2 linked regions of the Homo sapiens genome follow. Changing the gene in region 2 together with the main gene of any one other region gives a genetic interaction. Each region holds a gene or a part of one and is shown on either strand. Other genes may lie near its edges. The genes, in order: MED23 and CWC22.

Evidence for each region.
Region 1: changes in CWC22 (region 2) and MED23 together harm fitness less than expected from each alone (positive genetic interaction), as found in Homo sapiens cells (one large-scale study listed by BioGRID).

Annotation. Positions count from the first base shown.
Region 1 is NC_000006.12:131,586,159-131,590,496, forward strand, and holds the end of MED23 (mediator of RNA polymerase II transcription subunit 23), read right to left. Parts: intron 4,285-4,338; coding exon 4,164-4,284; intron 3,439-4,163; coding exon 3,307-3,438; intron 1,689-3,306; coding exon 1,521-1,688; 3' UTR 780-1,520; coding exon of another isoform or gene 762-779; 3' UTR 574-761; downstream 1-573. UniProt on the Homo sapiens protein: Required for transcriptional activation subsequent to the assembly of the pre-initiation complex. Component of the Mediator complex, a coactivator involved in the regulated transcription of nearly all RNA polymerase II-dependent genes.
Region 2 is NC_000002.12:179,948,050-179,951,876, reverse strand, and holds part of CWC22 (pre-mRNA-splicing factor CWC22 homolog), read left to right. Parts: intron 1-950; coding exon 951-1,052; intron 1,053-1,144; coding exon 1,145-1,365; intron 1,366-3,827. UniProt on the Homo sapiens protein: Required for pre-mRNA splicing as component of the spliceosome. As a component of the minor spliceosome, involved in the splicing of U12-type introns in pre-mRNAs. Promotes exon-junction complex (EJC) assembly.

The sequences.
Region 1 (4,338 bases), on a different chromosome or scaffold from region 2:
GCTGAGGCGGGGGATCACGAGGTCAGGAGATTGAGACCATCCTGGCTAACACAGTGAAACCCCGTCTCTACTAATACTAAAAATACAAAAAATTAGCCAGGCGTGGTGGCAGGCGCCTGTAGTCCCAGCTACAAGGGAGGCTGAGGCAGGAGAATGGCGTGAACCCGGGAGGTGGAGCTTGTAGTGAGCCCAGAGTATGCCACTGCACTCCAGCCTGGGTGACAGTACGAGACTCCGTCTCAAAAAAAAAAAAAAAGAAAAGAGTAAGTCTGCAAAAATTACTTTTACCATTATATAAATTTTTAGCTGGACTTGCATGGCCAGTAATGATTTAGTGATGGCAATTACATGAGCTACAAAGAAAATAAAGTTCTAGGAGGAATGTATTTAGAAATATGAATTTGAAATACAGTTGGTTAAATTCACTAGTTCTTTTTAAAAGAATCTGTAACTCTTAATTCCTAGGCCAATGTCAGTCACCAACTGTAGTGTAGGAACCACAGAGTACCCCATTTCCAACTGACCCCAGCCAGCACACCACCTGGCACACAGCCGACACTCATTCCAATGGAGTCGGGAAACAATCACACGGTTTATTCATTCAGCAGACTTTACTCATTAGTTTTCAAGTCTTTCGCAATGCCAATTCCCCCAAAATTAACAATGTCTCTCAAAATCCAAGAAATAAAATGTGTACTGTATTTACAAATATAAAATTTAAAAATTTTAAGATTATAAAAATTGAAGAATTACATCATCTGTCAGGTGAGAGTGTCAACCTGCAAAAGCAATTAACTTATTTTTAAAAAAAGAAATTGGAGAATCAACCATTTAAGCATGATTTTAAGTTCAAGAATTTTCAGATGTTATTTTCTTACATGGCTTCCAACTAATTTTATACAGTAAGTTCAAGTCCATAGCAAAGGTAATAAAACTGCCAGTTGACCTTGATAGAAACTATGGAAATTTATAATAAAATTTCAAGTCATTTTAAAAAGAATATGAAGCCTTGTTTGCTCCTACAATGCAACAAAATCTAGATTCCTTTTCTTGATATAAATCTCTATTATTCTGAAAATCTACCAAGAGATTTATGTATAAAATATTTGTAATAACTGTTTTACATGTGTGGTGCCTTTAAAATAATATATCTGAAGACTAAATATGTCATTAATAATAAAAAATACAAACAAAAACAACGGCTAGAATAGGAAAGACTGAAAGTGCCAATGACAAGTCATTTGATCACAGATACCTCTATGTTCCTACATAGCTCTAATAAGTTGTTATGAATATGAACAACATGTATCTTACTTGATCTCTTAGAGACAAAAATATAGATAGGGAGATGGGAGTTATAAGGTGTCAACAGATTCATCATTTGAATCAAAATAAAACAATCTGAATATCATCACTGCTTCTACTATATCACTACAGTGTGATCGCATTCAGATTTAAAAGGTTTGAGTCCACTCTCAAAGACGGATATATTTCTACTTTCTCCACAGTACAGTCTGGCTTCACTGAGTTACTGGTAAAGACACGGGCACCTGATTAGACTGAGGTGCTGGAGACCCACTGTTCATGGCTTGTGGAGGCACTGCAGCTGGCTCCATCTTGCTAATGTGTGTGATGAATCGAAGACGAAGTTTTAAAGCTGGTTTTAAGTTACAGATAATCTTCTCTACCTAAGAAATAAAAACACATTAAAACGTACTTTAATCAGAGAATTTCAACTTCTCACATTTAAAGCAGGATTTACACATATCCGGAGACAATAAACTAAGGAGTGTCGTGGGGTAGATGAGAAGTTTCTTAACATGTTCTGTGTTTTAAGAAAAGCAGATACAATGATTTCTTTCTTGCATGAGAAACAATACGTTCTCCCTCACACACACCCCTTATATATTATATGTGCATGTCTGTACATGTACCATATGTATATTCATATATATGCATATACTTACAAAGGCGTATCCACTCATCTAGCTAGCCAGTCATCCCACTACCAAAAGCTAGCAGAGTTTACACTGGAAATTTTATACATCCAACAAGTTGATCATTCTTTTAAAATGCCATCTTTACAGAAGCATGAAGCATAATTATAAAGTTCTTTGAATAACTCATGTTTGCAACATTTATCTATAAAACTATTTTGGTTTTGATTTACACTTGGAATTAACTAAATAATATTAGATCTACTCTTTTGAAAAACACTAAGGAGACAAACACATCAAGTCGTTTCACAGCTTTCTTAGCTTTACTCAAATGCTCTTTGACCTTTTCCTTTCTGTACTCCCTTGTGTTAAAGTTTCTTAGGCCTAAATGTAAAGAATACTTTTTTTAAAAAAACAAACAAATAAACAATTTCTTTTACAGTTTCTCTGCATGTTCTGTGTTGTAACAAAAGCAGATACAATTTCTCTCTTTCTTACATGAGAGAGAACAGGTCAACTCTCTTTGACACTGCTGCTGAGACATAAAGGAGTCAACCTCCTTGGCATCTCAACCTAAAGTACTGGGAGGGGTAGGAGGATGGACTTAACTTTCCCTATCTGTCCTACCTCCACTCCTTTAAAATGGCCCAGATTCTGTTTCCTACACGTAGGAAACTCAGTTATGATTCAAGGTCTTTTTCTACTTTCAGACATCCCCATTAGGAAGTTCCTCTTCATATGCTAAGTCAGGGTGGCCTCCCTTTAACTTTACCAGAATTCATACACCCTCTAAAGTGACACAGAACGAATCTAATACCTATTCCAAATGAAAACCCTCCAAAATGCTGAGGTCATAAATAATTCCCTAGGACTTTTTTCTTCAGGATAAGCATTCCCATATTCTCTAAATGCTTTTCATGAGTTAGTCTCTAGTCAGGATTAGTCTAGAATCCTGACTTTAGTCTTCTAGTTATGCCGCGGTTTGTCTACTGTCACCATGAGTGTCAGGAGAAGCAGGACCTCCTTTACTCATAACACAACAACCTCTCTGCTCATATTTCAGCAGCCATATCCCACTGTTTCTCCCTAATGAGATTACTATTAATTAACCCTCTAGGTCTTTTTCAGATTTTCTGTTGCAAATATCAAGGGGGAAAAGTACAAGAAATTATAACATGTATTTCCTTTAATACTACATCTAGAATAATATGCCTCTGATGCCTAAAAAGGTCTCATACCCACCCTTTTTCCTTAAAAGAAAAAATTAGACAAAATAAAAATAATCACCCAAACCAAAAAAGTCTATTACTATATGTTCAAGTTTTCTAAATTAAACATCATTAAAAATAATTAAACAAATTCAACTTACTTGCTCTTTCACGCTGTCACCAGTAAACATATACTTCATGTGATAGAGGAAGTCACAGATGGGATCCATGTAATTTAAATGGGTGCTACACTGGTCAACATTCAGCAGCATGTCATAAAACGCCACACCAATCTATTTAACAAATAATGTAAAATTATTTAAGTGATCAAGTGATTCAGTAATTCAGCATGATGCAGCTGGGCTCCATTACAACACTAGCACCGGGGGATACTGTCTTTGCTGTAGAACTGTCATATACCATATACACCTCTATGCACATGAGATATGATATGGCTTGCATTTATAAAAGAATCTATAGTGCTACAAAATGCCCCTGACAAGGCTTAAATAAAATTTCTCTTCATAGTTAAGTAATTTCTCTTAAAATCAAGAGATAAACAATCCCCTTTCTAGACACCATCTCTCGATGTCTGGGATAACTCCACTCCTAGGGATCCTTTGGATTATACTTTCTTAGTTCCATTTGGTAGCTCTTGCTTTAAGGTTCTACTCCTGGGTCCTTTCCTTGTTTGCGACATTTTGTTAGAAGTGACTGACTTCATCCATTCTCATGATTTTAATTAGCTCCTCTGCACTGTAAGATCTCAAATGTACTTCTCCATCCTTAACCTCTTCTCAACCTTCATGATGGGCGTTTCCTCTGCATCTCCAATTCAATACATCCCACCCTAAATTCATTACTGGCAAACTAAGTCCTCTAAAATTGCTCTTGGATCCTGTTAAACTAGTTTCACTACTAATGGTTGTGACCTGCAGTTTCAATAACACTGGTAAAGAAACTTAAATAGATACTTCAGAATTTAATCATGTCACAGGAAACCCAGATTATATTTTACCTCTATCATACAACGAGTTCTCTCTTGCTGAAATCTTTGTAAAAATGGTCCAACAAGATGGTATACATAAAGCAACTGGAATTCGGTCTTCACTATAGGAAGAAGTACTTCAGTAAGAAACCTAAAATTTGAAGATAAAAATCTCCTGTGACTTGAAATTATTTAAATTGTTTGA
Region 2 (3,827 bases):
TGCAGTTGACTACCTACTCACTGTGGCTCCATACTTTCTTCTCACTTCCTCTCTCAGTCTTCTCCTCAGCCTGCCTCTTCAGTGTTCCTGGGTTCCACACACTGTCTCTGGACTATTCCATCCACTTCTCTTGGCTTCATATACTTACTTATTTGGTCCCTGTCTACTTGACCAGGCTCGTCTTCTCTCTCTTCAGCAAGCTGCACTCCAGCCATACCAACACTGCCAAGCTTGTTAAACATATCTGGCTCTTTCATGCTTCCTTACCTCAGTTTCCACTGCTGGCATTCTCCTGTCTTATTGATCTATCTGGGAAACTCTTAATCATTCTTCTTATATTGTACCTTTTTCTGTGAGAAAGTTTTTTCTGACTCCACTGAGTAGTTACTCAGTGTGGTGCTGAAAACCAAATGTCCAAAACCACCTTGTATTGTTAGTGTCTTTCTGGTTGTCTCACTCCATATATATTGTAATTATATGGTCTTCATCCTTGATTTCTCCCTTTTGTTGATGACTTCCACCTCTCCCCCAGTACTTGGCACAGTTCTATGTATGTGTGTGTACGTGTACATACACAACAGAGAAGGTTTTTAAAATTTTTTGTACATATATTCACTATATATACGTGTGTGTATATATATACACTATATATATTCACACGTGTATATATGTGTATATATTTATCTTTCTATATGTGTGTGTGTAAAAAAAGTTTTTTAAAAACCTCCTACATTGTATAATGATAGAAATCAAGTTTGGTACATTATTACTTGACCCTACTCATTTCATTTAGATAGCACGTAGCCTAACCTAATAAATGACATCAACTAGTTACTTGGTTGTATTTCATTTAGTAATTTAATATATGAAAAATCTGAAAAATGACTAAGGATTTTACCTTTTTATCTTTAAGCAATGTGTTCTCTTTTGTTTATTTTTTTCCTTTTTAGAACTCTGCAGCCATTCTTTGAAGGATTATTACCCCGAGATAATCCAAGAAACACTCGGTTTGCCATCAACTTCTTTACTTCTATAGGTCTTGGAGGTTTAACGTAAGGATTATTCTCAGAATTTATGTTCAGATTATAAAATTATCTCATAATTGTCTTTGAAATAGAATCTAACAGATTATATTTTAAATTAGGGATGAACTGCGGGAGCATCTCAAAAATACACCAAAGGTCATTGTGGCGCAGAAACCAGATGTTGAGCAAAATAAATCCTCCCCATCCTCTTCCTCTTCAGCGTCCTCCTCTTCAGAGTCTGACTCATCCGACTCTGATTCTGACAGCAGTGATAGCAGTTCAGAGTCTTCCAGTGAAGAGAGCGACTCTTCATCCATCAGTAGTCATAGCTCTGCCTCAGGTATTGAAGCTTATGTGTAATTTGGCTTGCTCTTTTCTAATAAATATGTTGCTGATATATATGAAGGAAGAAAATAATTTGATTGTTTATTTGTCTTAGAGATCAGTTGTTTAAAAGCCACAATTAATACAAATGGTCCCATCTATCATTCTTGCAGTCTGTAATACAACATTTATAATGCTGGGATTACCTTTTGACATCCTCATCATAGAAATGAAAATATTTCATTCGCAGATACTTATCTGAGTGATGACTGATATGAACCATCCATTCATAATGTTTGTAATCTAGTTTATAGGAGCTATCCTGATGTTTTTATTTTAAATAAATTTTAGTTTTTTACTTTTAATATTAAAGCTGTTTGTAATTGAGATATATCATACATTCATTGTGGATCTCAGATGCTATATGAATTTTTATAAAGGGAACACATCCTCATAGCTAGCACACAAATCAAGATATACCGGTACCCCAGAAGTTCTCTGTGTTTCCTCTCCCAGTTACTACTCCTTCCATCCTCATGGCAGCTACTATTCTGATTTGTAATTTCATAAATTAATTGTGCCTGTTTTTACCTTTAGCATTATGTATTATGGACTCCTTTTTATGTCTGGCTTATTTTTTTACCATTATGTTTGTGAGATTTAGATGCATTACTGCATTTAGTTATAGTTAATTCAGTAATATTGCTATGTAGTTTCCTACTATATGAATATACCACAATATATATTTATCATTTTTGCTCAACAGACTTTAGATTTTCAAGTGATATTTCCATGTATATTCTTGTACATATCTTTTGATGACCTTATTTATTTATTCACATTTCTACTGGGTATGTACCTATAGGTGGAGTCAGTGTGTCATAAGATGTGCATATATTTAGCTTTGGTGAATACTGTCAGTTTTCCAAGTGGTTATTCCTATTTACACTCCCACCGGCCATGTATAAGAGTTTCATTAGCTCCCATTCTCATTAATACTTCAAATTGACCGTCTTTTTCATTTCAGCCATTCTGGTGGATGTGTAATGGTACTGCATGGCGGTTTTAGTTTTAATTTGCATTTCAACTAGAGAAGTTAAATGCCATTTTATCCATTATTGGCCATTTGGATTTTTGTTGTCAAGTGGCTGTTCAAGTATTTTACCAATTTTTTTTAGTTAAGTTGTTTTCTCTGTTGATTTGTAGGTTTTCTTTACATATTCTAGATATGATATCTTTTGTACATATATGTATTGCAAATAACCAGTCCCATTCTTGTCTCTCTAGCCCTGCAAGGCTACCAGACCTCTGGTGTCTCTGTCCCTCAGTAGCATCCCTGAATCAGCAGATGCTCCCAGGGAGAAAGTAGCTGTAGAACATCACTTACTTCTCAATGTTTCTGCTTTCTCCTGCATCTTGGCCCCTCTAGTACTTGTTTTTCCACTAGCTCTCTGATGCCTTTATATTTTTTACTTTGTAACTGTAACCTTTTATTCTGAGCTAATTTTAGATTTAGGAAAGTTGCAAAAACAGTACAGAGAATTTCCATATACTCTTCATTCCAACTTCCCCTAATGGTAGCATCTTACATAACACTGGTTCATTTATCAAACTAGGAAATTAGCATTGGAACAGCATTATTGACTAGACTACAGATGTGATTTGAAAACCAGTTTTACCACTAATGTCGTTTTTCTTATTTCAGGATTCTGCTAGCATTTAATTGTATTCTCAGTTTTCTGCATTCTATGATAGTTCCTCTCGGGCTTTCCTTGTTCTTAATAGCTTTAACACTTTTGAAGTCCTCTGGTCACTTATTTTGTAACCTGTCCCTCAGTATGGAGTTTCGTCTGATGTTTTCTCCTTATTAGAATGAGATTAGACATTTTTGGCAAGAGTACATTAGAAACAATGTGTTGTTCTTAGTGCATCTTATCAAGAGGTTCATAATTTTATTTTGGGTGACAACCTTGATCACTTGAGTAAGGTGGTGTCCACTGGATGTCTTCAGGGAAACTATTTTTCTCTGTGAAAATGTCTTGTAGGGAGGTAACTTGATACTATGCAAATCTCTTTTTCCTCCAGCTTTTACTCACTAATTTTAACATCCATCTTTGGATGGTTAAAAAATCACCTAATGGTGATTTTTTATTTGTCTGTTTTCTTCTACATCTAGTAATTGAATTTCTTCTATAAGAAAGTATTGTCCCTCTTCCCTCATTTATTTATTTAGTCAACTGTAAATATCAATATAGACTCACGGTTATTTATCTTATCCTGTGGGTTAAAGTCCAATACTGTCATTTATTTTGCTCAAATCATCTTAGCTTTGGCAATTAGGAGTTCCTTCAACTTGATTTCTGTGTGCTTTTCAACATTTTTCAATGCAACATTTTAAAATTGTATCTGGCATTTCTAGTTATTTTCAGCAGGAGCACAGGTTTGCCACAGTCTTCTCTATCCTACCTGGAAGTGGAA